7 linked regions of the Homo sapiens genome follow. The protein of the gene in region 2 purifies or fractionates together with the protein of the main gene of each other region. This does not show direct contact. Each region holds a gene or a part of one and is shown on either strand. Other genes may lie near its edges. The genes, in order: ARMC1, RALB, MMUT, DNAJC17, SLC25A3, XPO5 and HCN1.

What was found.
Region 1: the proteins of RALB (region 2) and ARMC1 fractionate together in Homo sapiens (co-fractionation; one large-scale study listed by BioGRID). This does not show direct contact.
Region 3: the proteins of RALB (region 2) and MMUT fractionate together in Homo sapiens (co-fractionation; one large-scale study listed by BioGRID). This does not show direct contact.
Region 4: the proteins of RALB (region 2) and DNAJC17 fractionate together in Homo sapiens (co-fractionation; one large-scale study listed by BioGRID). This does not show direct contact.
Region 5: the proteins of RALB (region 2) and SLC25A3 purify together in Homo sapiens (affinity purification with mass spectrometry; one large-scale study listed by BioGRID and IntAct). This does not show direct contact.
Region 6: the proteins of RALB (region 2) and XPO5 purify together in Homo sapiens (affinity purification with mass spectrometry; 2 studies listed by BioGRID and IntAct, with this or other methods). This does not show direct contact.
Region 7: the proteins of RALB (region 2) and HCN1 purify together in Homo sapiens (co-immunoprecipitation; one large-scale study listed by IntAct). This does not show direct contact.

The regions. Positions count from the first base shown.
Region 1 is NC_000008.11:65,606,678-65,610,177, reverse strand, and holds part of ARMC1 (armadillo repeat-containing protein 1), read left to right. Parts: intron 1-3,500.
Region 2 is NC_000002.12:120,258,857-120,263,141, forward strand, and holds part of RALB (ras-related protein Ral-B), read left to right. Parts: intron 1-4,285. UniProt on the Homo sapiens protein: Multifunctional GTPase involved in a variety of cellular processes including gene expression, cell migration, cell proliferation, oncogenic transformation and membrane trafficking.
Region 3 is NC_000006.12:49,435,754-49,439,637, reverse strand, and holds part of MMUT (methylmalonyl-CoA mutase, mitochondrial precursor), read left to right. Parts: intron 1-3,884. UniProt on the Homo sapiens protein: Catalyzes the reversible isomerization of methylmalonyl-CoA (MMCoA) (generated from branched-chain amino acid metabolism and degradation of dietary odd chain fatty acids and cholesterol) to succinyl-CoA (3-carboxypropionyl-CoA), a key intermediate of the tricarboxylic acid cycle.
Region 4 is NC_000015.10:40,772,620-40,776,904, reverse strand, and holds part of DNAJC17 (dnaJ homolog subfamily C member 17), read left to right. Parts: intron 1-277; coding exon 278-363; intron 364-612; coding exon 613-709; intron 710-1,308; coding exon 1,309-1,352; intron 1,353-1,796; coding exon 1,797-1,874; coding exon of another isoform or gene 1,875-1,937; intron 1,938-2,468; coding exon 2,469-2,549; intron 2,550-3,067; coding exon 3,068-3,178; intron 3,179-4,285. UniProt on the Homo sapiens protein: May negatively affect PAX8-induced thyroglobulin/TG transcription.
Region 5 is NC_000012.12:98,599,401-98,603,685, forward strand, and holds part of SLC25A3 (solute carrier family 25 member 3 isoform b precursor), read left to right. Parts: intron 1-234; exon of another isoform or gene 235-484; intron 485-554; coding exon 555-727; intron 728-1,770; coding exon 1,771-1,881; intron 1,882-1,967; coding exon 1,968-2,128; 3' UTR 2,129-4,285. UniProt on the Homo sapiens protein: Inorganic ion transporter that transports phosphate or copper ions across the mitochondrial inner membrane into the matrix compartment. Mediates proton-coupled symport of phosphate ions necessary for mitochondrial oxidative phosphorylation of ADP to ATP.
Region 6 is NC_000006.12:43,544,535-43,548,819, forward strand, and holds part of XPO5 (exportin-5), read right to left. Parts: intron 3,927-4,285; coding exon 3,727-3,926; intron 3,174-3,726; coding exon 3,074-3,173; intron 2,920-3,073; exon of another isoform or gene 2,782-2,919; intron 2,219-2,781; coding exon 2,037-2,218; intron 1-2,036. UniProt on the Homo sapiens protein: Mediates the nuclear export of proteins bearing a double-stranded RNA binding domain (dsRBD) and double-stranded RNAs (cargos). XPO5 in the nucleus binds cooperatively to the RNA and to the GTPase Ran in its active GTP-bound form.
Region 7 is NC_000005.10:45,254,009-45,257,260, forward strand, and holds the end of HCN1 (potassium/sodium hyperpolarization-activated cyclic nucleotide-gated channel 1), read right to left. Parts: 3' UTR 940-3,252; downstream 1-939. UniProt on the Homo sapiens protein: Hyperpolarization-activated ion channel that are permeable to sodium and potassium ions. Displays lower selectivity for K(+) over Na(+) ions.

The sequences.
Region 1 (3,500 bases), on a different chromosome or scaffold from region 2:
TGCAGTGAGCTGAGATTGCGCCATTGCACTCCAGCCTGGGCGACAGGGCGAGATCCCGTCACACACACAAAAAAATTTTAATTTTGTCTATATTTTTAGTTGTTTAATTCTAGAGGCTAAATCTGGTCCCTGTTAATCCATCTGGACTGCAGCTGGAAGTTCCCCTGAAGTTACCTTGCACAGAGAGAAGTTATATAACTTTACATATTTAGGGGTAGCAGTTGGTAGATTACCACTTACCTCTTTAGCAATGCCAGGTAGGTTATATTAGATTATTCACAGCTTTTTTCTTTTTCTTTTCTTTTTTTTTTTTTTTTTTTGAGACAGAGTCTTGCTCTGTCCCCCAGGCTGGAGTGCAGTGTCGTGATCTCGGCTTACTGCAACCTTTGCCTCCCAGGTTCAAATGATTCTCCTGCCTCAGCCTCCCCTGTAGCTGGGACTACAGGTGCCCGCCACCATGCCCATCTAATTTTTGTGTTTTTAGTAGAGACGGGGTTTCACCATATTGGCCAGGCTGGTCTCGAACTCCTGACCTTGTGATCCACCCGCCTTGGCCTCCCAAAGTGTTGGGATTACAGGCGTTGAGCCATGGCGCCTGGCCCACAGCTTTTTCTAGTTGTGTTTAGGTGCTTAGGCTCAGGATATGGGGTTTAGTAAATAAGCCTTCCATATGCATATTGTCAGACCCAAATCAGTCCACAGCTATCTTACTGGAAGTGGGGTCACAAGGCAATTTCTAGAAAGCAAGTTCTGATAAAGGTAAATTGATTCACTGGAAGATCTTAAGATATATAAAATATCTCCAATACCATGTGTTTAATTTTAGTGAATAAGAATAATATAGTTTCTTTTTAAAGCTAGCACAAATCAAGTAATAAAACCCAGCAAAGCACACACAAAAATATAGGCTAGCCAGGTGTGGTGGCACATGCCTGTAATCTCAGCTATATGGGAGGCTAAGGCAGGAAGATTGCTAGAGCCCAAGAGTTCAAGACCAGCCTAGTCAACATAGCGAGATTCCGTCTCAAAAAAAAAAAAAAAAAAGAGCAGAAACCAAACAAACAAATATATAGGCCAATATATAGTAAAAACATGATTACCAAGTCCAAAATGAAATATTAGCAAGTTAATTCTAGTACTGTACTATCATGTTAACTTTTTTTGGTGACATAGCCTGGTACTAGTGATAAGTTTATTTCATCGATTCTCTCATTTGTTTCTGACAGCACAGAGAGATGTATATCTTCTTTCTTTCTTTATTTTTTTTGAGACAGAGTCTCACTCTGTCGCCCAGGCTGGAGATCAGTGTGACACGATCTTGGCTCACTGCAACGTCCACCTCCCAGGTTCAAGCAATTCTCCTGCCTCAGCCTCCCAAGTAGCTGGGATTAAAGATGCCCACCACCATGCCCGGCCAATTTTTTTGTATTTTTATAGAGACGGGGTTTCACTATATTGGCCAGTCTGGTTTTGAACTCCTGATCTCAAGTGATCTGCCTGCCTTGCCCTCCCAAAGTGCTAGGTTATAATAGAAGGGGAAGTTGAGTTTAGAATGGTCAAATAACTTAACTGTTTACTCTACCTATGTAACTTTAGCTTAGTCAACATTTTTTGGACTAGGTAGTGTGACTTCAGAATTGAACTCTTTTTCGAGACAGAGTTGCTCTTTTGCCCAGGCTGGAGTGAGGTGGCGTGATCTCAGCTCACTGCAACCTCCACCCCCTGGGTTCAAGTAATTCTCGTGCCTCAGCCTCCCAAGTAGCTGGGATTACAGGCACCCACCACCACGCCCCGCTAATTTTTTTGTATTTTTAGTAGAGACAGGGTTTTGCCATGTTGGCCAGGCTGGTCTTGAACTCCTGACCTCAGGTGATCCACCTGCCTCGGCCTCACAAAGTGCTAGGATTACAAGTGTGAGCCACCGCGCCTGGCCCAGAATCGAACTTTTAATCACAATATTATAATTTCCTAGAAACAATCTAGTTTTATCCTGGAGTTGTAAATATGATTTAACATAGTGAAATATTTTAGTATAATATCAGTAAGTCAATAATTTGATAATTTGCTATTGATATAGCTGTAAATATAGAAAATCCAGGAGAATGATCTGAAATTTCTTAAAAATATTTTAAAAATCCAGTGACATTATTAAATATATGGAAATCAGTTACTTCTTAAAAGGAGAAAAGTAGTTTTACTCTCCCAAACAAAACAAACAGCTAGGAAGAGTGCAGGGGTATTTTTTCTTTTTTTCTTTTTGTTTTTTTAAACTTAATGACCAGTGTGATAGTAGCAAGGGTATTCTTAATAAGAAAATACAAGACTTAATAAAAAAAATTAAAGGTCTTCAGTATTATAAGAAGACTGGAATAAATGGAATGAAATGCCTGTTTCTGAAAGTTTGTAAGGATGTTAGTTCTTCCTAAATTTGTGGACTTAAAATAATGCCAATCAGTCTGATGATTTTGGAACTTTATTTCCTGATCTGAAAGTTCACATGGTAGAATGTACTAATTTTTACAATAAAAAGGAGCACCTAATGTTAGGCATTATTTTAGATACCAGGGATACAGCGATGACCAAAAAGCAAAACTTTTTGCTCTCTTGGAGCTAGCATAGTTGGAGGAGGCAGGCAATAAGCTTGCTAAAAAAGTGTGTTAATTTATGTTAAAATAAAGATAAATTAGACTTATGAATCTCGTTTCTCACTGTTGCATGTGGTTGGCATTTAGTACCAGACTCTACCTGTGGTAAATCAGGCAAGTTGTTTTTCAACTTTTCACTTTCCTCACATTTAAAATAAGGGATCAGATTAATAGTATCCTAACTTATATATATTGTGTGAGCTTTACTTCACTTTCAAGTTTACCTGGTGTTGAATATGTGGAAGAGATAAACATGGTGCTATTTGGCACCAGTCCTCTAAGGGGCTTCACCAAATGCAGGCCCCTGCAGAGCAGGGTCCAGACACAGTGCACTAGATGAGCCCACTGTGGGCCTGTGCTGTGCCACAGACTGACGTGTCCCACGTCTCCCTGAGTAGTGTTGAAATGCAGAAGTAGGGAGATGAGCAATGGTGTGAGCAGTTGTTTTGAAGGATGTGGAAATAAGTTTGAAAACTGGATATAGTCTACAGATTTGGCACGTGGGTCAGTTGCAGATTGACCCCTCAGAAATATAAATCAAAACTTGGTCTCAATACAGAAATCAGAAAATGTAGAGAGTGTGATTTGGTGTGTGGGCCAGAGGTGGAGGGAGCTATGAGGAGAAAATGCAATTACTTTTTCCATTTTCACTTTGGATCTTGTATTGAGATGACCACTTGATGGTCAAGTGGATATGTCTGACAGACAAATAAGAAAGTCATATTGGAGTTAGTAATGTTAGTGATGGCTAAAGTGATGAGAATAGTCTTCTGAGGTTTGAAGCAGAAAGAAAATCAGTTTAGGAACTGGACTTTGGAGTTAAGGTGAGACAAAGCTGGAATAATCAGTGGGAAA
Region 2 (4,285 bases):
CCGCGGACCCTCGCGGTGAGTGTTACAGCTCTTAAGGTGGCACGTCTGGAGTCTGTCCCTTCTGATGTTCAGATGTGTTCGGAGTTTCTTCCTTCTGGTGGGTTCGTGGTCTCGCTGGCTCAGGAGTGAAGCTGCAGACCTTCGCGGTGAGTGTTACAGCTCTTAAGGTAGCGCGTCTGGAGTTGTTCGTTCCTCCCGGTGGGCTCGTGGTCTTGCTGGGCTCGGGAGTGAAGCTGCAGATCTTCGCGGTGAGTGTTACAGCTCATAAAAGCAGCGTGGACCCAAAGAGTGAGCAGTAGCAAGATTTATTGCAAAGAGTGAAAGAACAAAGCTTCCACAGCGTAGAAAGGGACCCCAGCGAGTTGCCAATGCTGGCTCGGGCAGCCTGCTTTTATTCTCTTATCTGGCCCCACCCACATCCTGCTGATTGGTAGAGCCGAATGGCCTGTTTTGTCAGGGCGCTGATTGGTGCGTTTACAATCCCTGAGCTAGATACAAAGGTTCTCCACGTCCCCATCAGATTAGTTAGATACAGAGTTTCCACACACAGGTTCTCCAGGGCCCCACCAGAGCAGCTAGATACAGAGTGTCAATTGGTGCATTCACAAACCTTGAGCTAAACACAGGGTGCTGATTGGTGTATTTACAATCCCTGAGCTAGACGTAAAGACTCTCCACGTCCTCACCAGAGCAGCTAGATACAGAGTGTCGATTGGTGCACTCACAAACCTTGAGCTAAACACAGGGTGCTGATTGGTGTATTTACAATCCACGAGCTAGATATAAAGACTCTCCACGTCCCCACCAGACTCAGGAGCCCAGCTGGCTTCACCTAGTGGATCCCGCACCGGGGCTGCAGGTGGAGCTGCCTGCCAGTCCTGCGCCATGCACTTGCATTCCTCAGCCCTTGGGTGGTCGATGGGACTGGGCGCCGTGGAGCAGGGGGTGGCGCTCGTCGGGGAGGCTCGGGCCGCACAGGAGCCCATGGAGTGGGTGGGAGGCTCAGGCATGGTGGGCTGCAGGTCCCAAGCCCTGCCCCGTGGGAAGGCAGCCAAGGCCCGGCGAGAAATCGAGCGCAGTGCCGGTGGGCCAGCACTGCTGGGGGACTCAGTACACCCTCCGCAGCCACTGGCCTGGCTGCTAAGTCCCTCATTGCCCGGGGCCAGCAGGGCTGGCTGGCTGCTCCGAGTGCGGGGCCCACCAAGCCCACGCCCACCCGGAACTCCAGCTGGCCCGCAAGTGCCGCACACAGCCCCGGTTCCTGCTCGTGCCTCTCCCTCCACACCTCCCTGCAAGCCGAGGGAGTGGGCTCCGGCCTTGGCCAGCCCAGAAAGGGGTTCCCGCAGTGCAGTGGGGGGACTGAAGGGCTCCTCAAATGCCACCAAAGTGGGAGCCCAGGCAGGGGAGGTGCCTAGAGCAAGCGAGGGCTCTGAGGATTTCCAGCATGCTGTCACCTCTCACTAGTAGTGACTTCAGTAGCTAATAAATGGGGGATAGTGAAGGAGCAGATTTTAAGAGGGAAGAATCAAGAATTCTATTTTGGGAATAAGTTGAGAATCTTGTGGCAGCCCAGTGGGCAGGGGCAGCAGCAAGGCTGTGAGCCTGGGGCCAGGAGAGCGGTCAGGGCTGCATCCTCAGGTTCGTAAGTTGTCTGTACAGCCACTGGGCTGTATGTGGTGCAGATGAGGAGGGAGCAAGACTGAGCTCCGAGAAGTGCTGACATCTAGATGGGGAGGAGGAATGCCTGGCAAGTGGCGCCGAGAAAGGGCCCAGAGAGCCACCCGGGAAGCACTCAGCCTGTGGGAGAATGTGGGCTGTGGAAGCCAGGAGGGATGGCCTCAGGAGGGGGACGCTGGAAGGGGCCCTATACAGGCCTGCTGCGGGCCTTCCCTTTCCAGGCAGCGTTTTGTCACTCTTGCTACTTGCTCATTTTAAAGAGGAGGAGGGCATGGGAAGGAAGAAAGAAGAGTTTTTATTGGAGCTAGCTACGTGGAGTTTGTGGGTGATCTTGATCTCACAAATTTCTGTGAGCTTATATTGGGAGGAAGTTGGATTGGAATGGTTTCCGTAAATAGTGAGGGAAGGAAACAAAGGCTTTTGCTACACAGTGTGGGGTCTGTGGGTCAGGAACATGATTAGAGACTAGGTTAGTGGTGCCAAATCTTGGGCTCCACTCCAGACCTACTGAATCAGAATATGCGTTTTCACAAGATTCCCAGGTAAACTATGCATTAAAGTTTGAGAAGCATTAGCACAGATAATTCCTATAGAGGAATTGTGTCATTAGCTAGAAGGATATATGGGGGTCAAAGGCACACACGCATGTGTGAATCTTTAGGGTGAAGATTCAATAGAACGTGTCTACATGCTGTTGGGGATGATCCTGTAGCAAAGTAAAGACTGATTGATGCTGCAGGAAGAAGGGTAGTGGTAGGAATTAAGTTCTTGGGCATGGTGGTGGTGGAGGGCTTGGCCTTTGCTAAGAGCAGGAATGTGTACTCCATGAGGCTGGAGACAAGGAGAAGAAGGGCGTGGAAGGTTTGTAGATTTGTTGAAGGAGCTCTGAGGGAGTTAGGGTTTGATGGCTTGGTGTTCTCTGGGACAAATGAGGTTAGGTTATCTGTCAAGAGTAAGCAGAGGGAGGGCACAGGGGAGAGTCACAGCGAGATTACTAGGAAGTGTGGGGGAATGCCCATTCGTGGTTTGTGATCATAAGTGCATTGAGAGTGGAGTGCTGGGAGGCTGCTTTCTTGAGTTTCTTTCCCTCGACAGCAGCATTTGCATGCTGGGTGCAGGTGCTGAAAACAGTGAGTGAGATGGAGGGGAAGGGAGCAGGGAGATGAGGTATCTGCAAGAGGGCTTTTCTCATGTCAGGCTTTGGGATCTAAGCTGGTGAAGGGAGGCAGTGCAGCCCAGAGGGTCTTGTTATGCAGAGAGAGAGTGCTGGAGGCCAATGCTTGCAGGTGTCAAGAGGGCAGAGAATTGTGTGTGGGGGTGGTATTTGAACAAGTGAGCAAGAAGGATGGAGGCTGAGGCTAGAGGGTTAGAGGAGATAACTGTTTCTGGTGACGGTGAAGTTCAGGTAATGACCATGATAATGTTAGATAGAAGGAAAGAAAGGGTTTTCGGAGAAGAGAGGATCAAGGACTTGAGAGGGGCCGAGCTTGGCTGGGACATCCACATGCACAGATGTCATTGGGGAGGACGACAGGAGTTGGGTAGAATGGAAGTCTGCAGACCAGAAGCAGATGTCCTCAATAAATGAGGGAAGTGACCAGGAAGTCTGTAGCTGATAGTAACAAGGTGAAGGACAGGCTATTATGGCTGGAAAGGCCAGGCCTCAAAGGTATGGGGGCTTTTGTAAGACGGATGGGGCTAACAGAGGTACTGAAGTGCAGGTGACATTGGGGAGGGAGGAAGGACACATATCTGGTCTGTCTGGCCCTGAAGCACATGGCATGGGAGGAGAAATAGCATCTGCTTGATGTGGTGTCCCCAGGGCACACCCAGGTCTCAGAGCTAGAAGGTAGAGGAACATTCTTAGAAGAGGTGGAGGCTCTCGAAGGGTTTGCTGGTGTGCCTGAGGTTGCAGGGACCAGGTGGGTTAGCCATTTCAGGAGATGGATGCAGTTCTGTTGGGTTGAGAGCCCTAGTCATAGGAAAGAGTGGGGACACCTGCACTTCTGGTGGTGACTGTTCAGGACAGATGTTCAGCAGTGTGCTCCCCTTAAGAGGAGGGTGGTCCTGTTCTAGCACCGTAGTTCCCAAACGTGGCTGGGGAGGTGGCAGCTTCCTTGTGTGATCCTCTCAGCCTTCACATACTGACACAGCAGGGAAGAGAAGGCAAGACTGTTTCTGTTAGAGCCGTTTCGGGAGTTGCTGGGGAGATTTAGGACAGGGACATCCTGAAATGCCCATTGGTTATGCCTCTAAGGCAAATTACGCTGTGTTTTGGGTGATGAAGAAAGAAGGGTGTGAAGGGCTTCTGTTGATGAAAATCTGCCTGTGCTTGTTTCCAGGTGGAGTATGCCTTTGGTACGCGTTTTCCACGTGTCCCTCTCCACTGCCCTGAGACGTAGGCAGGGCAGATATTGTCAGTGAGTGGGAGTGACTTGCCTAATCCTCTAGTGAGTCAGTGGCTGAAGGAGGACTCAAAGCCAGGCCCCTTCATTCCTCAGGACAAGGGGGACTGCGTCTGAGCAAAAAGTATCTTGCCTTATCTCTTTCTTATGGACTGGCAGCTTTTCCTACTTTACCATATATTTGGCTCTGAGGCCAGTTTCTT
Region 3 (3,884 bases), on a different chromosome or scaffold from region 2:
GCCTATTTGGATTTTTGGAAGCAACACATTCCTCATTTGGAATGTGTTACTCTGTGTTACTCTGGCCTATTTATCGAGTGACCCAAAAGACTGCCAGTTTTGAGTGGGGTCCAGAATAGGAGAAGGCTCTGCAACAGGTCCAGGCTGCTGTGCAAGCTACTCTGCCACTTGGGCCATATGACCCAGCAGATCCAATGGTGCTTGAGGTGTCAGTGGCAGATAGCAATGATGTTTGGAGCCTTTGGCAGGCCCCCATAGGTGAGTCACAGCAGAGGCCTCTAAGATTTTGGAGGAAGGGCCTGCCATCTTCTGCAGATAACTACTCTCCTTTTGAGAGACAGCTCTTGGCCTGTTACTGGACTTTGGTGGAAACTGAATGTTTGACTATGGGTCATCAAGTCACCATGCGACCAGAACTGCCTATCATGAACTGGGTGCTTTCTGACCCATCTAACTATAAAGTGGGTCTTGCACAGCAGCATTCCATCATCAAATGGAAGTGGTATATATGTGGTCCAGCTTGAGCAGGTCCTGAAGGCACAAGTAAGTTACATGAGAAAGTAGCTCAAATGCCCATGGTCTCCACTCCTGCCACCCTGCCTTCTCTCCCTCAGCCTTTATATATATATATGTAAGGGGGAGTTTATTAAGTGTTAACTCACATGATCACAAGGTCCCACAATAGGTCTTCTGCAGGCTGAGGAGCAAGGAGAGCCAGTCCGAGTTCCCAAACTGAAGTATTTGGAGTCCAATGTTCAAGGGCAGGAAGCATCCACCACGGGAGAAAGATGTAGGCTTGGAGGTTAGATCAGTCTCTCTATTCACATTTTTTTGCCTGCTTATATTCTAGCCACGCCTGGCAGCTGATTAGATGGTGCCCACCCAGATTAAGGGTGGGTCTAGCCCTTTCCTAGCCCACTGATTCAAATGTTAATCTCCTTTGACAACACCCTCACAGACACACTCAGGGTCAATACTTTGTATCCTTCAACCAAGTTGACATGGAGTATTAACCATAACACATATAGTCCAATTAATTATGATAGAAATAAAAATAAAATATAATTAATCTTTCAGACTTTTAAAAGTGTCAGTTCAGAACTAAAACTGATTATGCCTCTGGAACTATGAAGATTACTTTCAAAGATCTTATTGTACTCTTTATTGAGATTTGACTAATATTTTGTGGGAAAGATAGCCCACATGGGATTGGTGAAAAGTGTTTTGAAAAAGAAATCAAATAGCAATATAAACTCAATTCATAAGTAAGGTTATTTTCGTTTATTTTTGTTGTCTTTTTTTAACTCTCTACTAATATGTTACTTAGTCACAGAATATTAGACTTAGACAGGAAAATAGTTTGCAGGAGATAAATTACACTGACATTTTCCATAGAATGATAATACAAAAAAATTTGACTAGAAAGTACATTGTAATAATTTTATATGAAAAGCCTTCTCTACTACATATGTATTGATCATCTACCAGATGCTAGGCTCTGAGTTGAGTAGGATACAATTTTGTCCTCGAGGTTACAATCTCCTAACAAAGAGAGATTTACTTACTTGTAATTACATCGTATGAAATTTACTATGTAAATTATTACTATTTCGTACATAGTATGAAAATTACTATAACTAAATTACTATAACTTTATACTATACTATAACTATAGTATAAAATTACTATAACTAAAATATGGACAAAGAGGGCACCTCACTTGTTACAAGAAACCCAGAAACTTATATTTGTTGATCCTTAAAACTTATGTTTGTTTCAGAAGCACAGTGCCATTCACTTTCTAGTAAAATCACTCTCTGAAGTGGATGGAGGAGAGCTGCAACTAGATTCAAGCAGTACGGTGAAGAAAAACAATGAGAAACAACGAAGACCTTAACTAGGGCAATGTCAGGGTCTCAAGAGAAACCAAATCTCAGCTAGGATTTTGAAGAAAATTTAATGGAGGGACTACTTACAGATATGTAGGCAGGATTGCTAGAACCACTAAGGAATAATGAGGCCTCCAGGAATTAAATTTTTAAGAATTTCAAAAGCCAGTTGTTTTTCATGGTGTGAAATGGTGTCTCATTTGTTTAAGTTCCTTGTAGATTCTAGAGAGTAGACCTTTTACTATTGCCTAAAACCAAAAGTGATAAGTACTAAAAACTTATCACTCCCTATATTTATATATTTTATTATCTGCTTTTTAGGTTATTTCCATCTATTTTTTCTATATGGTAGTGATACTGTATAATTGTGTGGCTATTGTGTGTCTTTTTTTCTGCTTTGCATTTAGTAATGTCATGTTAATAGGGTGAAATTGGCTATGGTTGGAATATTCACAACATAAAAATCAGCAAACACTAAAAATTAGGGATTGAGTTATTGTTTTCAGAAAATTTGATGAAAAATGTAAATAATCAGAACAAAGTTCTCTGAGGGAAATAATGTAACGATGAATATTAAATTTAAAAGTTTCTGATATCTGTAGGCATTACATTAGGAAGACCCCCCAACATTTGAGGAAACATTCTTTTAGTATTCAAAAAAATATTATTTTTTGTTTGTTTTTTTAACTTTTATTTTAAGTTCAGGGGTACATGTGTAGATTTGTTATATAGGTAAACTTGTGTTGTTAAGCCTAGTACCCATTAGTTGTTTTTCTGACCTCCCTCCTCCTGCTCCTCTACCCTCTGATAGGCCCCAGTGTGTGTTGTTTCCCTCTTTGCCTTGTTTGTGTCCATGTGTTCTCATAATTTAGCTCCCAATTATAAGAAAGAACATGTGGTATTTGGTTTTCTGTTCCTGTATTAGTTTGCTAAGGGTAATGGCTTCCAGCTTCATCCATGTTCCTGCAAAGGACACGATCTCATTCTTTTTTTCTGGCTGCATAGTATTCTTTAGTGTGTGTGTATCACATTTTCTTTATCCAGTCTATCACTGATGGGCATTTAGGTTGATTCCATGTCTTTGCTGTGGTGAATAGTGCTACAATGAACATACATGTGAATGTGTATTTTTTTTTTTTTTTTTGAAACAGAGTCTCGCTCTTTCATCCATGCTGGAGTGCAGTGGTATGATCTTGGCTCACTACAACCTCCACCTCCTGGGTTCAAGTGAGTCTTCTGCCTCAGCCATATGAGTATCTGGTACTACAGGCACGTGCCACCATACCTGGCCAATTTTTGTATTTTTAGTAGAGATGGGTTTCACCATGTTGGCCAGGCTGGTCTCGAACTCATGACCTCAAGTGATCCACCCGCCTCTGCCTCCCAAAGTGCTAGAATTACAGGCATGAACCACCACGCCCAGCTGCAAGCATGTTTTTATAATAGAAAGATTTCTGTTCATTTGGGTATATGTACGGTAATGGGATTGCTGGGTTGGGAGGTATTTCTGTTTTGAGGTCTGTGCGGAATCACCACACTGTCGTCTACAATGGTTGAACTAATTTACACTCTCACCAACACTGTATAAACGTTCCATTTTCTCCACAACCTTGCTAGCATCTGTTATTTTTTGACTTTTTAATAATAGCCATTCTGACTGGTGTGAAATGGTGTCTCATTGGGGTTTTTATTTGCATTTCTCTAACAATCAGTGATTTGGAGCTTTTTAAAAATACGATTGTTGGCCACATGTATGTCTTTTTTGGAAAGTGTCTGTTCATGTCTTTTGCCTGCTTTTTAATGTTTTTTTGTAAATTTGTTTAAGTTTTTTATAGATGCAGGTATTAGACCTTTGTCAGATTCACAGTTTGCAAAAGTTTTCTCCCATTCTGTAGGTTATCTGTTTACTGTGTTGATAGTATCCTTTTCAGTGCAGATGCTTTTTAGTTTAATTATATCTCATTTGTCAATTTTTGCTTTTGTTGTAATTGCTTT
Region 4 (4,285 bases), on a different chromosome or scaffold from region 2:
ACCCACACCCTGTTCACTAGAGAGAACCAGCTTGGTCAGTGTGAGCTGTTTTTAACTCTTCCAGACCCCTGGCCACTCTGCTAGACCCCATACTTCTGTGCTGTGATTTTTCTCAATGGAAATTGACTCGGGGGCGTGGGCATGGAGGGAGGGGGCAGAGTTACTGTATGATCTCGTCGTGATTGAGACTTTGGGGAGGCAGCCAGAGCTGGGGTGGGCCGAGGCCACATGGAAACTGAACAGACCAGCAGTCTGGTCATTCAACCCTTGTGTCTAGACCTGGAGGCCCGGGAGCGGCAGGCCCAGGCCCAGGAGAGTGAGGAGGAAGAGGAGAGCCGGAGCACCAGGACACTAGAGCAAGAGGTGAGCACTCAGGCACACTGGCCAGAAGGCCACCTGCAGGAGGAGGAGGTGGGGGAGGATGGACCTGGTGGTCGCCGTGGCTAGAGAGGGCATGCTCTTTGCACCTTCAGTGGGAGCTGGGTGATTTGTCCCACCCACAGGTTGCTGAGCCCTAGCTTGCAGGTGGAAGCTCCCAAGGACTTTTTACAAGGTGAGCCAGCCTGGAATTGGACCTGCACAGAATTGTCACCCCCACCCCCTGCTCTGCAGATCGAACGCCTGAGAGAAGAGGGTTCCCGGCAGCTGGAGGAACAGCAGAGGCTCATCCGGGAGCAGATACGCCAGGAGCGTGACCAGAGGTTGAGAGGTGCAGGTCTATCACCCCGCCTATCTCCCCTCCAAGGTAGCTCCAGATTGCTCAGAGCGGCCACACTGGCTGTTCGGTGGAGCTGCTGTGGAGGCTTCTACCTGCTGGAACCCTGGGGTCACCCTATGGTACCTTACTCTGACACATGCCACTTATCCCGTCTTCCTCCCAGTTCTCTGGGGCCTATTTGCTTTTTACTCTGCCTGAGATCTCCTGGCCACATTTGGCTTTGTCCCAAGCAGAGGTGGCCTTGTTTTGGGACAGATCACCACGGGGAGGGGCCCTGGGACACTTTGTGCCCGTAGAACCTCATGGTCTGTCTCTCTGCCTCCTGTCCCTAGAAAGTGTTCCTAGCTCTCCATTCAGAGAGTGCTGACAAGTGGCCTTCAGGAGGCAGCTGGGTAGACCACCCCTGGGGTGGCAGCTTCTCTGGGGATGGGCATCTGCTTTCCCCACCAGGCCCTCACCAGAGCTGGGCAGGCATTGCCCTTGGTCAGGAGTGACCCTTTCCAGACCCTTCTTGCTCTGGGCTGCATTTCCTTTGGGAGAATCTCTGACTCCCTCATATTCTACTTTTCTTCTTTTCCCAATATTTCTAGGAAAGGCAGAAAATACTGAAGGCCAAGGAACCCCCAAACTAAAGGTGAGCCTGGGCAGGATCTGTGGGCCACCTCACACTCACACCGCCTCCCCTCAGCAGGAATAGATGCTTCCTGTGGCTCGAGGGTTTCTGGTGGGGCTGCTGGATCTGCGTGGAGCCCGCACCATTACCACCTCCCTCCATGCTCCAGCCGCCCGGAGATCAGAGCTTGCCACGAAAGGCTGCTTTTAGCCCTGATCACAGGGCAGAGGATTCTCTAGAAGCCCTCTCAGGAGAGGGTCTTCTGGGCGGGAAGCGTCCCTGGGGTGAGCAGGCCATCCTGCCTTCAAGTTCCCAAGGGGAAAATGTTTCTGGTGGCACTCCCCAGATTGCAGGAGCCTTGGAGGCTTGGAGGGTGGGAGGATGTCTGCTCAGACTGTCAAGCTCAGTCGTGGGGTGAGGTACTGTTCAGCCAAGAATCAGTGTTTCATGAGGCTCTCTTTTCAGCTAAAATGGAAGTGCAAGAAGGAGGATGAGTCAAAAGGTGGCTACTCCAAAGACGTCCTCCTACGGCTTTTGCAGAAGGTCGGCCCTGTTGACGTCCACTCTTTCCTATCATCTCAGTCCACGTCTCAGTCCACACCCTAGGTCTCTGCTCTCAATGCCTGAACTTCCCTTAACATATCTACTTGCTTTTTTTTTCTGTCTCATAGACCATGGGACGTCTTAGAGACTTCTCCCCAGGCTACAGCCTTGCTTTCACTTGTGTGGCCATGTGCCCCCTTCCAGCCCGCTGTCCTTTGCTACCTCGGTCTAACCCTTACCCTTAGAAGCAAAGAGCTTGGTTGAGTGGGTTGGGAGGGACGAGGTGCGTATCTGGCACGAAAGCCCCGTCCTTTTCACCACGTTCAACTAGCAAGGACGCTATGCAATGAAATGTGTCAGTCTAAGTCACCAGGGCTTTGCTCATCATTCCTTTGCTGCTCTGTGTTCCTAGAAAAAAATTTCTTTCTTTCCTATCTCTGATCTCACTTCACTAAGATAAGTAGGTGGGGCAAGAAGTTATCTCCCAACTGAAAATGCCCCATGGGCCTCAAGGTAGCCCAGGCTTGTCTCTGGCATGACCTGGGCCATCCTGAAGGCCAAGTCATGCTTATTAGGACCCCTTTGTCCCCACAGTATGGTGAGGTTCTCAACCTGGTGCTTTCCAGTAAGAAGCCAGGCACTGCTGTGGTGGAGTTTGCAACCGTCAAGGCAGCGGTGAGTGCTGCATGAGGCTTGGGGGCCCCTCGTGGCCCTGTCATTCTAGGGCAGGGACCCAATTCTGTGGGCCCTCTGAGTTAGGTGGTCTGCACTCCTAGGGAATCTCCAGGCCAGCTTAGAGCCAAGGCTCTTCCCAGGGGCCCCTGACTCCTGGAAATAGAGGCACCGTGTGTGAAGGGATGGATGGGGGGTGCTCTGGGGAGAAAGGAGAGCACAGACTTGACTCTGCTCCCTGCTGGTGCCTTCACACCCTCCACCTGCACCCCTTGGGGCTGTGAGCCCCAGCACTGCCTTCCCACCCTTTGTGCTCCTCGCCTCCCCACATCAGAAAGCTCCCCCAACCCCTCTCCCGCAGGAAAGGCCAAAGCGTTAACACCCATCACTTGAAGGCTGCTGAGGTTGGCATCTCTGCTTAGAGGGCTAGAACGCTGGTTCCGTTCTCTCTGTGGGGGTAGAGAGAGCCTCTTTATAGCTGACTCAACGGATGGGACAGGACTAGATGCTGTGTTTGGCAGGAGCTGGCTGTCCAGAATGAAGTTGGCCTGGTGGATAACCCTCTGAAGATTTCCTGGTTGGAGGGACAGCCCCAGGATGCCGTGGGCCGCAGCCACTCAGGACTGTCAAAGGTGAGGAGTCAGGCCTCGCCCGGCTGGGCGCTCAGGTCTCGGAGCTCTTCCTACCTGGGCTCCTCTCAGGCTCTTTCCTTCCAAATTCAGATCTTGGGGCCTAGAGTGAGCTTGGCAGGTCCACCAACCCAGGCAAGAGGGGCTGTGATTTCACGTTGAACCCTTTTCCTCTCTGAGGGCCAGAGAGGCCCCACCCACACTGTATTCTTAGACCTTGCTTTCTCTCCATATCTGGCCTCCTGTTGGGACTCTCCTTCTCACCAAAGGGATCTTCCTGGCCCTCAGGTTGCTTGGTTGTGGTGTGTGAAGCATTTGGAGCTTAGACGACCCAGTGCTGCAGAGAAGGGGCAGGTGACTAGGACAGCCACTTCCTTCCCAGCACTTCAGTTTTCTGGATGTGTCTCTGGCTGCCCCAGAAAGGGACCGACTGTCAAGAGGCAATATCTCCTCTTGAAGTAACCCTGGCAGGCTGGGCGCAGTGGCTCATGCCGTTAATCCCAGCACTTTGGGAGGCCGAGGGGGGCGGATCACCTGAGGTCAGGAGTTGAAGACTAGCCTGACCAACATAGTGAAATCCCGTCTCTACAAAAACACAAAAATCAGCTGGGCATGATGGTGCGCACCTGTAATCCCAGCTACTCAGGAGGCTGAGGCAGGAGAATCGCTTGAACCAGGGAGGCAGAGGTTGCAGTGAGCCGAGATCGTGCCATTGCACTCTAGCCTGGGCAACAGAGCAAGACTTCATCTCAAAAAAAAAAAAAAAAAAAGAAGGAACTCTGGCTACCCTGCTGACACGGGGTGGTGCCTGCCCAGAGTCTGGGTGCCCTGCCTGGGTGAAGCGTAGACCTTCCAGCTTGTGTGTAACCCCCAACCTGCAACCATGGCCCTGGTGTCTTTTGGCCTGGATACAAAGGCTAGGGCTGTGGGGCTCCTGGCCACACCTGTCCCCACCTTGGTGGAACAGATTGCTTTGGGGGCAAGATCTAGCAACCTGGTTCTTCCCTTCTCTGCAGTGGCCCAGGGCCTGTCTGGTGTGTCCACAGCCCCTCAGCAGGCTGGCAGGAGGCTGCTCTCATTACTTTACCCACGCCAGCCTGCTCCGTTGCC
Region 5 (4,285 bases), on a different chromosome or scaffold from region 2:
TATTATAACATTTAATGTCTATTTACCTGTATGTAGAACATAAACTTGAGAGGTAAAGATAAGTTAATACATGGTTTGAGCCCTGGACTGAGTTTTTTTTTTTTCCCTAGAGTAAGGACCATTTGTCGGTCTACAAATGACTTGATGTTTGGCCTAAACATTTACTATTAACTTTTAGGGAGGGCTTGTTAGTATCCTTGTGATCTATTCACAGTTAAGAATTTCCATGACCACAACATGCTTCCTTAGATCCACCTTTGTGGATGAATCTTGAACTGAGTTCCACTTGTAAACTTCTTGTTTCTTGTGGTTCCAGTAGTCAAAGAAACATCCAGCAACTTTTTTGGTTGTATAGTCAAAGGTGCTTGAGTCATTGGCATGTAAGAGAAATATACCTGCATGTTAGTCTAACGTTCTGATAGAAATGACATGCATTTATGCTGCCATTTGTTACTATCAGGACTCGACTCGTGTGCGGACATTTCTGTTAATAATGACAGTCTCTGATAGATGAGTGTATGCAACTGTGTAAAACAAGTCTCTTGATTTCCTAGATTCTACAAGGGGGTTGCTCCTCTCTGGATGAGACAGATACCATACACCATGATGAAGTTCGCCTGCTTTGAACGTACTGTTGAAGCACTGTACAAGTTTGTGGTTCCTAAGCCCCGCAGTGAATGTTCAAAGCCAGAGCAGCTGGTTGTAACATTTGTAGCAGGTTACATAGGTACGAATTACTTAGAACACACTTGTCTGAAATTATGAACAAATAATCATTTCCATTATTGGCGTTTTTTGAGAGGGAAAAATACTCCAAAGGTTATAAAGCAGTGTTTTTGTTTTTTTGGTTTCCCTGAGGCATAGTCTCGCTCTGTTGCCCAGGCTGGAGTGCAGTGGCATGATAATAGCTCACTGCAACCTCCTCCTCCTGGGTTCAAGTGATTCTTCTGCCGCAGCCTCCCAAGTAGCTGGGACGGGCATGCACCGCCATGCCCGGCTGATTTTTGTTTTTGTTTTTTGTTTTTTTTTGAGATGGAGTTTTACCCTTGTTGCCCAGGCTGGAGTGCAGTGGTGCAATCTTGGCTCACTGCAGCCTCCGCCTCCTGGGTTCAAGCGATTCTCCTGTCTCAGCCTCCTGAGTAGCTGGGATTGCAGGCGTCTGCCACTACGCCCGGCTAATTTTTAGTATTTTTAGTAGAGACGGTTTCACTATGTTGGCCAGGCTGGTCTCAAACTCCTGGCCCCAGGTGATCTGCCTGCCTTGGCCTCCCAAAGTGCTGGGATTACAGGCGTGAGCCACCGCGCCTGGCCTGATTTTTGTAAAGATGGGGTTTCACCATGTTGATGAGTCTGGTCTCAAACTCCTGACCTCAGGTGATGTGCCTGGCCTATAAAGCAGTTTTATCTTCCCATAACATTTTATATGCTTTTTAGGATTCATAAATACTTGCTAACTAGTTCCTAAAAGGGCTGTTTCATGGGATGTCATTATTAGGCTTGGGAATGTATTGATCTTACTGTTGCACCATTTTTTTGTTGTTGTTTATTAAGAATTTTATACAGAAAGTGTTGAATAAAATCTGAAAAACTTTAAAAGATTGTTCCGTTTTACATAGGATAGACAGCTTGATAACTGTACCCGTGTCACCCTGAGTCTGATTTTTATTTTAGAACTAGAAAAATATTATTTTAAAATCATAAAAATGATTATTGGCTCTGTGAAGTTTTGTTTTTAACTGGCACTGTATGGGATCCTTTATCTTTTTTCAGCTGGAGTCTTTTGTGCAATTGTTTCTCACCCTGCTGATTCTGTGGTATCTGTGTTGAATAAAGAAAAAGGTAGCAGTGCTTCTCTGGTCCTCAAGAGACTTGGATTTAAAGGTAGGATGATGTTTTTTTCTTGAAAGAAAGAACAACAGTTTTGGATATGTTGCATTTTTTTCATTTGCTTTTCCTGTTTGAACCAGGTGTATGGAAGGGACTGTTTGCCCGTATCATCATGATTGGTACCCTGACTGCACTACAGTGGTTTATCTATGACTCCGTGAAGGTCTACTTCAGACTTCCTCGCCCTCCTCCACCCGAGATGCCAGAGTCTCTGAAGAAGAAGCTTGGGTTAACTCAGTAGTTAGATCAAAGCAAATGTGGACTGAATCTGCTTGTTGATCAGTGTTGAAGAAAGTGCAAAAGGAACTTTTATATATTTGACAGTGTAGGAAATTGTCTATTCCTGATATAATTACTGTAGTACTCTTGCTTAAGGCAAGAGTTTCAGATTTACTGTTGAAATAAACCCAACTCTTCATGATTTGCCTGTGACTTATTTTTAAAACTTTTTTAAAAAAGATTTAGCTTTAAAATAGTTGGAAAGAATGAAGTATATAAGTTAAGGAAAAAATACAAAACTGACCATGACCATTGTTGGTTGAATATTCCAGTTGCTATTCAGAAATTGTCATATGTCTCAAGTTTTATCACACAAAGTTCCTGTATTTCTAGGGAAGCAGACTTTAAATTTCTAAAAACTTGATTTAATTATAGTTAAATATGTGTAGTCATTTGTGGTTATTTTGGCAAGTAAATGTCAGTGTATACTTACATTTTTGCAGCATGTACTACACCTTTTTTATGTTGGTGAGTTTGCTAATCCTTATTTGTAAGACAAGGTAAACCAAATTAGGCTGATTCTTAGAATGACAGTAAAGGACCAAAGTGATTGACAGCTGAAAACAATTTTCAGGTACACTAATTCTCTTTACACAGATCTGACTTTTTTTTTTTTTGAGACGGAGTTTCACTCTTGTTGCCCAGACGAGTGTAGTGTCGCGATCTCGCCTCACGGCAACCTCTGCCTCCCAGGTTCAAGCGATTGTTCTGCCTCAGCCTCCCAAGTAGCTGGGATTTCAGGCATGTGCCACCACGCCCAGCTAATTTTGTATTTTTAGTAGAGACGGGGTTTCCCTGTGTTGGTCAGGCTGGTCTCGAACTTCCAACCTCAGGTGATCCGCCCGCCTCAGCCTCCCAAACTGCTGGGATTATAGGCATGAGCCACCGTGCCCGGCTCTGACTTTTTACAGAAAATTGAACTATTTTCAGTCTGGTATTTTAAGAAAGGTACTGCTTGACAGCTGAACTATATGAATGCCACTGGGGAAAAAGCATTCCATCATACTTAGATACGAGATTGGATTGTAGGTTTAAGCCCATTTTTAAAGAGCTCCTAGAAAGTGAATTAGTTTTTGTGTTTAGATTCCCCTTAAGTTTGATTAGGAAGTGTATAAAAGTTCAATCTTTTGTAATGACAGCCCACCACTGGAAAAAAAACGAAAAACCTAGTGTAATATATAACATGCTGTTTTTCAAACACTAGATTTTACCTAGAGTCCTTATGTGTAATACGTGGGTTGGTTAACAGTCCCTACGTAAAGCGTACAGATGGCCTGGAGAGAAAAACTTTTTCAGAGATTGGAGAGAAATGTTACTACAAACTCATGGTAAGGTCAGTGAACTCAATTTAGAAGCCAGTGCAGCTAGTTGCATGTTAACTTCTTTATATCATCATTGCCTGAACTTGTTAAAGGTTCCAACATTTTACCTGTGCTGCAGGAAAAAAGGAAAAGTTGTAGGTACAAATTTGGACCAAACTTTAAAAAGGTAAAGTAGGATGTCTTCTGAACCCAACCAAGTGGTGGCTGTGGTGCTTAGCAGTATCAACTGTATATTATTTCTTGCTATGTTAGCAAAGCATCCAAAGATCAATGGTGTATGATAAGCTTTTCTGTGGGTGAAGAACTCGGGAGTATCAGACTCTTCTGGTTCTGAGTCTCATGAAGCTTTTCACTTCTGAGCTGAAAGGATGCTCTTTGTGCTTTTCACTATTAGTGGTATAGTCTTTCCCGAAAATCTCTAGCATGGTGGCTTCAGGGCAGCTGGACTTAGGTGGTATTTTGGGGCTCCAGGAGAGCTTGGCAGAGTTGGCTTTTTAGGACTTATCCTTCAATGTCACATAACATCACTTTTACCATGCTCTTGGTTACAACAGTGATGTCTCAGAAACCAAGTCCCAGATTGAGGAAAAAAGGAACATAGTCTCTACCTCTTCCTGAGAGGAAAGTCAGTCAACGTGTAAGAGGAGCAGTAGAAACGCATTAGTCCAGCCAACGTGAAAGTGGACCGTAGATCTAAAACATTTTGGGTATGCAGTTCAGCCAGCCCTTACTGAGGCAGTTCTGCCAATCAGGATTCAAGTTTTATTTCCTAAGAGTTATAATAGGTTTTATTTGTG
Region 6 (4,285 bases), on a different chromosome or scaffold from region 2:
ACAGGCCTAAAAAGGTCTAGGTGATTAGCTTCTTGCCCTATGATTTCCATCACTTTCACGTTTCTCTAGCTGCAGAAGAACCTTGTGGTTTTAAAAAACATCACTATGGGGCTGGGTGTGGTGGTTCACACTTGTAATGCTAGCACTTTGGGAGACTGAAGCAGGCTCAGCTGTCCGAGACCAGCCTGGGCAACATGGCAAAACCCCATCTCTATTAATAAAAACATCACGATAGAAATAAGCCTCTTCTTGACTAAATGTTTAACCCTCTCAGTACAAGTCCTACTTCTTTTCAGAGATCTCTTTCCTCCTTTAGAAATCAAAAGAAAATATTATTTATTTATTTATTTATTTTGAGATGGAAGTCTCACTCTGTCGCCCAGGCTGGAGTGCAGTGGCGTGATCTTAGCTCACTGCAATCTCCGCCTCCCGGGTTCAAGCGATTCTCCTGCCTCAGCCTCTCGAGTAGCTGGGATTACAGGCATGTGCCACCATGCCCAGCTAATTTTTGTATTTTTAGTAGAGACAGGGTTTCATCATGTTGGCCAGGCTGGTCTGAAACTCCTGACCTCAAGTGATTGACCCACCTTGGCCTCCCAAAGTGCTGGGATTACAGGTGTGAGCCACCACACCCCGCCAAAATATTGTCTATTTCCACAGACATGTCCACAATGACAACTTTATCAGACACTCCAGCCCTCCAATTTGTCAACATTAACTTAAAATCTTTGGTTCTCAGGCTTCAGGTCTTGGGTGTCTATTCCCAGGAGAGTTTCACTGCGACATGAATAATTTGGTTTGCCCCGTTGAGACTGCTTTTACTCCTTGGAGAAGGGGCCAAAAAGTACTGAAACAGAGCTCTAACAATGTAATTTAAACATCCTGTGAGAGGCCAGGTGTGGTGGCTCACTCCTGGAGTCCCAGCACTTTGGGAGGCCGAGGTGGACTGATCACTTGCGGCCAGGAGTTCGAGACCAGCCTGGCTAACATGGCGAAGCCCTGTCTCTACTAAAAATACAAAAATTAGCCAGGAGTGGTGGTGCACACCTGTAGTCCCAGCTACTTGGGTGGCTGAGGCAGAAGAATCGCTTAAGCCTGGGAGGCGGAGGTTGCAGTGAGCCAAGATTGCACCACTGCACTCCCAGCCTGGGTGACAAAGTGAGACTCTGTCTCAAAAAAACAAACAAACAAAAAAAAAACCAATCCTGTGAGATACAAAAAGCACTCTTTGGCCAATAACTGAATTATATAAAAAAACCTATCTTTTCATTTAGAGACCATCCCTGAGTCATCAAATATCTATATCTAGTAACTGATAAGCCTATACTGGCCTACTTCCACTTGAATATATTAACTCATGTGATCTAAAACAGTGATTCTGAATGTTTAATGTGTATATAAACCACTGGGCATCTAGTTAAAATGCAGATTCTGATTTAGTATGTCTGGGGTGGGGCCTTGATTCTGCCTTTGAAATAAGCTCTCAGGTGATGCTAATGCTACTGGTCTTAGGACTCAGCTTTGAGAACCAAGGATCTAGCAAACTCAGATGAAAAATTTATAATTCCTTTGTTTAGCATGTTCAGCCAGCGGTTGTTTGGTTCATCTGAGCTCAGACTCAGTATTGATAAATTCAGATTAGCTCATATGAATACCACCTAGACAAGCATCATTATAGAAGGCAACTGCCCTGCTCCCAATGAGCAATTCCTTTACTAAAAAATTTAGACCAAATAAAACTTACAAGTAAAAATAGGGATGAAGTATAAAGAAATGGAAGAACAACAAAGAGGAGGCTCAAAATGGGAAAAGCCCTTTTGGGATTATCCCCTTGGGTTCACATGGAAATTAAGATTTATGCAAGTGAGAGCTGATGTTATTTTTTTTAAAACTGAGACACCCTCTAGAAAGAAATAAGACTTAAATCAATCCCTCATTAATACCACTAAGATATGAAGACATGTAAACAGACTAAACTTTTGAAATTTTTAAGGTAAAGTAGAAAACAACAGAGAAAAGCCATTATTCTGACTCACCTTATAAGCGCAAGCAAATTGTCAAGAAGTTTCAGAATCTGCTCTGTGCAGGGGTTACGGAAGATTGGATTTCCACTGGATGTATAACCCACCACAAATCCCCCAGCTTTGGCCTCTTCTAGGTCAGTGGGCCAGCAAGTTCGTTTCACCACACCCAGAATGCTGTATACACAAAAGCTCATCTATAGAAAAATAAGAATGACAGATAAATATTAAAAGGAAAAAAAAAAAAAGACCAAATACTGTTAGATATATTCAAGGTTCTGGCAAAAGTGACACAGAGGCCAGAGAGAATGAAATAATCCTCTGCTCCCCGGCAATCCCCCATCCCTTCCTTTAAGGTGAAGTCCAAGAGGGATCCTCTCACTGCCATTTTCAGGGCCAGTGGTAGGCTCTGGAAACTTCCCTTGCAGTAAGCTGTCTTTCTAGGAGCTGCAGTGACCCACCCACAGGACCCTGATGAGAAGGTGGCTTAGATACGATCCAAAACAAAGTGTTTAAAATGCCATCACTTCATCTTCTTTGAGTTGACCCTTATTGGGCCTTGACAGCTAGTGTCCTAATCCCCCCTCACGGTACTCTGAATCAACCTACTACTTGCCAGGTTAATTAATGGGACTTGTGCCATAATGGAGCCAGGAACAATGCTTATTTAAATAGCAAAGCACTGAAAAATCTCAGGTTTGCAAGTTAAGCCATCACTTAAGACTTTACATGCCAGAGAGCAATGGCAGGGAGGACTCACCCTGCTGACCAAGTTCTGACCTACTTCCTCATTACACCTTCAGTCTTCAGAGCTATTTAGAGATCCTTAAAGCCAAAATAATGACTTCATAGAAAAGACCATCTGCTCTGCTGTGGGAACTAACTCAAGAATTCAAGACTAAAGAAGAAAAGAAAGGAGAAGCTTAGGGAAGTGGAGACTCCCACGTTTCTCACCAGTATAGAAAAAACAAATCTATGAGAAACTTGACAAAAGACAACACCCTACTCCTACCCATGGCCAATGCCACTTCCCATTCCCAGGAAAGTCTTACTCGTGCACGGTTTAAGCCACACGGATCCTCCAGGCCTGGGTCACAGCTCTTCTGATCTGTACCCACATACGCAATGAAAGCATCAACATCTGACAGCACTCTGAAGGTTGGAGGGGGAAAAACAAGTTACATCATGACTTTAAACAAGGACAGTTTCTTCCACAGGAGTTAACAGGCTATCATTATTTGGCCCTTAAGAGCAGTTTTTATAGTGAGAGGAGTATAATCATACTAATTGTCAGTTGTCATTTGAAGGTTTAAATTTCCCTTCCCACTCCCAAATATTATTAGTAACAATTTAAGAATTAAACAAGAATATAATCTTCAAAATATAAAGAAAATAATTTCTCTACTGTGTGAGCACAGATAAGTGTCTGTGTGGTTGTATGGCCCTTCCTAGCTGTTCTCATTTTTCTAAATGTGCTGGTGCTGCAATGCAGACACCACAGGAGTCTCACTCTGTGCCCTCCCCACCCACAATCTAATTGAACCAGAGATTAAATTACAAAAGACTGCTTTTAGAGAACTTCAGATATCATGGATAATGCCATCACACTTCAATATCCTTAACCCCTACCCCACCCTGGGCCTAGCTCTTAAACCAAAATGGGTGCTTGAGTATAGTAAGAGTCAGGGCAAGGGATCTCCTTTACCTGTGCATGTCTTGAGAAAGCCAGATGCTGGCCACTGGTGCCATCAGCTCCTCTAGGAACACCTTCTGACGCTCGTAGTTCTTAAATTGGTTGCTAATGAGAACCAGGGCTTCCATGAGGGCACACTTCTCCATTTGTGTCAGGAGTAGCTCATTGGAGAGGAGTTGCTTCACATGGTTATAAAGCATGTCAAAATTGGGCTACAGATCAAAAAGAAAAAAAGCCAGAGGTGGTAAAGGTCTGATTTTCAAGGAGAGGTGGCTTACTCAAGGAAGAAAGAAGAAAACCAAAGCAGTCCCAGGAAAGTCAGGCCTATAAGGTTATTATTTGGTAATTCTGTTATATGTCTTTATTTTGCCTAAATAAGCAAGGCAATTTAGGCGGAAGATAGCTCTTGTCTTGAGTATTTGGATAACTGCACTTTCCCATACTACAACTGTGAAAAGATCAGCTTGTTTTATATATATATATAGATATATATGTATATCTATATATATATGGAGATAACTGCTGTGCATTCAGAGAAGAAATTTCTGGATAATTTGTAATCTGGAGTAAT
Region 7 (3,252 bases), on a different chromosome or scaffold from region 2:
CCAGATAGCCTGGGGTGACTTAGAAAATTCTGCTCATTGCTCTTAGAATGTTTAATGGGGGCCAAGAACTGGAATAAATTCTTTGTAAAATTTAGCTCATTTAATCTTCACAACCACCCTGTAAAGTAGAAACTATTCCAATCTCCATTTTCCGGTCATGAAAGCAGATGTAATATTGAGAGGTGAAGCCAGCTGGACTTCCTGGGTCGAGTGGGGACTTGGAGAACTTTTCTGTCTTACAAGAGGATTGTAAAATGCACCAATCAGCACTCTGTAGCTAGGATTGTAAAACGCACCAATCAGCGTTCTGTAGCTAAGATTGTAAAACGCACCAATCAGCATTCTGCAGCTAGCAAGAGGTTTGTAAAATGCACCAATTAGCACTCTGTAGCTAGGAATGTAAAACACACCAATCAGTGCTCTGTAGTTAGCAAGAGGATTGTAAAATGCACCAAACTGCGCTCTGTAAAATGCACCAATCAGTGCTCTGTAAAATGCACCAATCAGCAGGAGTCTAAAAGTAGCCAATCGCAGGGAGGATTGAAAAAAGGCACTCTGATAGGACAAAAATGGAACATGGGAGGGGACAAATAAGGGAATAAAAGCTGGCCACCCCCAAGCCAGCAGAGGCATCCCACTGGGGTTTGCTTCCACCTGTGGAAGCTTTGTTTTCACTCTTACTGCTCCTTACTCTTTGGGTCTGTGCCATTTTTAAGAGTTGTAACACCGCAAAGGTCCGTGGCTCCATTCTTGAAGTCAGTGAGACCATGAACCCACTGGAAGGAACCAACTCCGGACACAATATGACTATATAATTCTACCATGGGTAGAATAAGCAAGTAGAGCAAGACATAAGCAGTAGAGCCAGTTTTTGTAGTCAGGCTTTCTAAACACTGCAGGTGTATAGATATAGCTGATGAAGAGAAGCTCTTTGCAAAATATTGACCACATTCATTTATTTTTATAATGTCAATGTATTATTGATAGCATTAAAAATGTTACAGAAGGCAATGGACACATTGTACTGATGTGATATTAAGAAACATTGCTAGCTATGGCACCAAAATTTATGTGACATAAGGAAATTATAATACCTAACACATATTAGTTTTCTCTTCCCTGGTTCTAACTAGCAAGTGCCAGGAGGCAGGCTGGGTTAGACAGCGTGACCAAGAGTAAACTTTGGATGGTCCAGGATAAAATTATAACATAGGTGGTTTGTCGTTGCTTGTGTTTATTTAATGTTCTCTCGCTTTCCTTGTCTAGCCAAGATCCCATGCTATGTTGACTTGTCATCTCCAGAAATGTCTTCACACTTGGAAGTTCCCTTAAAAAGCCCTTAAAATTTACCTCCTCTAGGACTTACTAGTTCCAATTTTTTCAATATTAATACACATATGAATCATCTGGGGATCTTGCCCAAAAGCGGACTTCTGTAGGTACAGGGTAAGGCCAAGGACTCTGCACTTCTTGTAATTATACTTCTGGGTGATACTGACGCTGCAGTTCCATGCACCACACTTTCCACAGTGAGGCACGCAAGAACATTTAGAACTGCACATTTTAAACAGAATTGTAATATGTTAGGTTGGTAATAGATGTTAGAAGAGTTAGGCAAACAAGATTTAATTTTGAATGCTTGGAAACTAAGACCTTGAACAAATATGAGAAAGAAATGAGAATACATTTGGAAAACTCTTTTTGAATCTTTCAAATTTCTTTGGGTTATGTTCTTTCTTCCTTCAAAAGTAAATCTTTCCTTTCTCAGGAGTTTTCCTCACAAATTTAACAGGAAATAAAAACCTTTCAAGAAAGTCTCTTTGCCTCTACACATCTGAATATTCTCTGTAGAAAACGATGCAACCTGTTTTTTTGCAAAATTCCGTTATTTAAAAAAAAAAGTCTGAATAACTCTACGTTACCTGAATTCAATTATATAATCTATTGGAAACATAAAGTGGTCCTCTTTTGAAGAATTATTATATTTACTAATTTATTCAGATTTCTTCAATTGAATGAATCAATAGTATTCTCTGCTCATATGGTATTACTGAAACAACTACATAGAAAAAAATAGCAGGGCCGGGTGCGGTGGCTCAGGCCTGTAATCCTAGCACTTCTGGAGGGTGAGGCGGGCGGATCACTTGAGGTTAGGGGTTCGAGACCGGCCTGGCCAACATGGTAAAACCCTGTCTCTACTAAAAATTACAAAAATTTAGCTAGCCATGGTGGCGGGCACCTGTAATCCCAGCTACTCTGGAGGCTGATGCAGGAGAATTGCTTAAACCTGGGAGGCTGATGTTGCAGTGGGCCAAGATCCTGCCATTGCACTCCCACCTGGGTGACAGAGCCAGACTCCATCTTAAAAAAAAAAAAAAAAAAAGATGTTTCCCTTTGGGAGTAAATGGCCATTGATGTTACATTAGAAATATAATAGCTCCAAAGAATGTTCACCTTTGCCACTCTTTGGAGCGTGTGTGATATCTCCAATAGAAATTAAAGAACTGGCTTCACTTTTTTGTTTGTTTGGGTTTTTCTTGAGAAAGGGTTTTGCTCTGTCCCCCAAGCTGGAGTGCAGTGGAACGAACAGGGCTCACTGCAGCCTTGACCTCCTAAGTTCAAGCGATCCTCCTGCCTTAACTTTCTGAGTAACTAGGACTACAGGAATACACCACCTATAGTCGGGTTTTCTAAACACTGCAGGTATGTAAGTATATACTGGTCAATTAAAAAAATTTTTTTTCCTTGTAGAGACCAGGTCTTGACATGCTGCCCTGGTTGGTCTCCAATTCCTGGCCTCAAGCATTCCTCCCACTTTGGCCTCCCAAAGTGCTAGGATTACAGGCATGAGCCACCACGCCTGGCCTGAGAACTTGCTTTATTTTAGCCAAAATTATTTTATCACTTCTTTCCCTTCTCACAGGTTCTAGCTCTTATCTTCTTGTACCCCTTCCCTGCCGCAATATATTATCTTACGCAAAGCAAGTAAACTTTCAGTTTCCTATTCCCATTACTCTATTTAGCAAACCTAGGACCTTCCTTAGGACCCAGCATCCTCACAAGGCAGGGTGGGGTTGTAAATAGCCCCCAGTTTTTGCTGTGTCATAAATTATTTTATTCCTTGTTACATTAGCAAAACAGACATTTCAATGTGAATCCTCCCCGTTGATAAGCTTAAATTAAGAATATAAAGTACAACACTGTAAAACCTTTGCCCTGATGTTAAAAGCCTTTCAGAAGGTTTTTGAAATC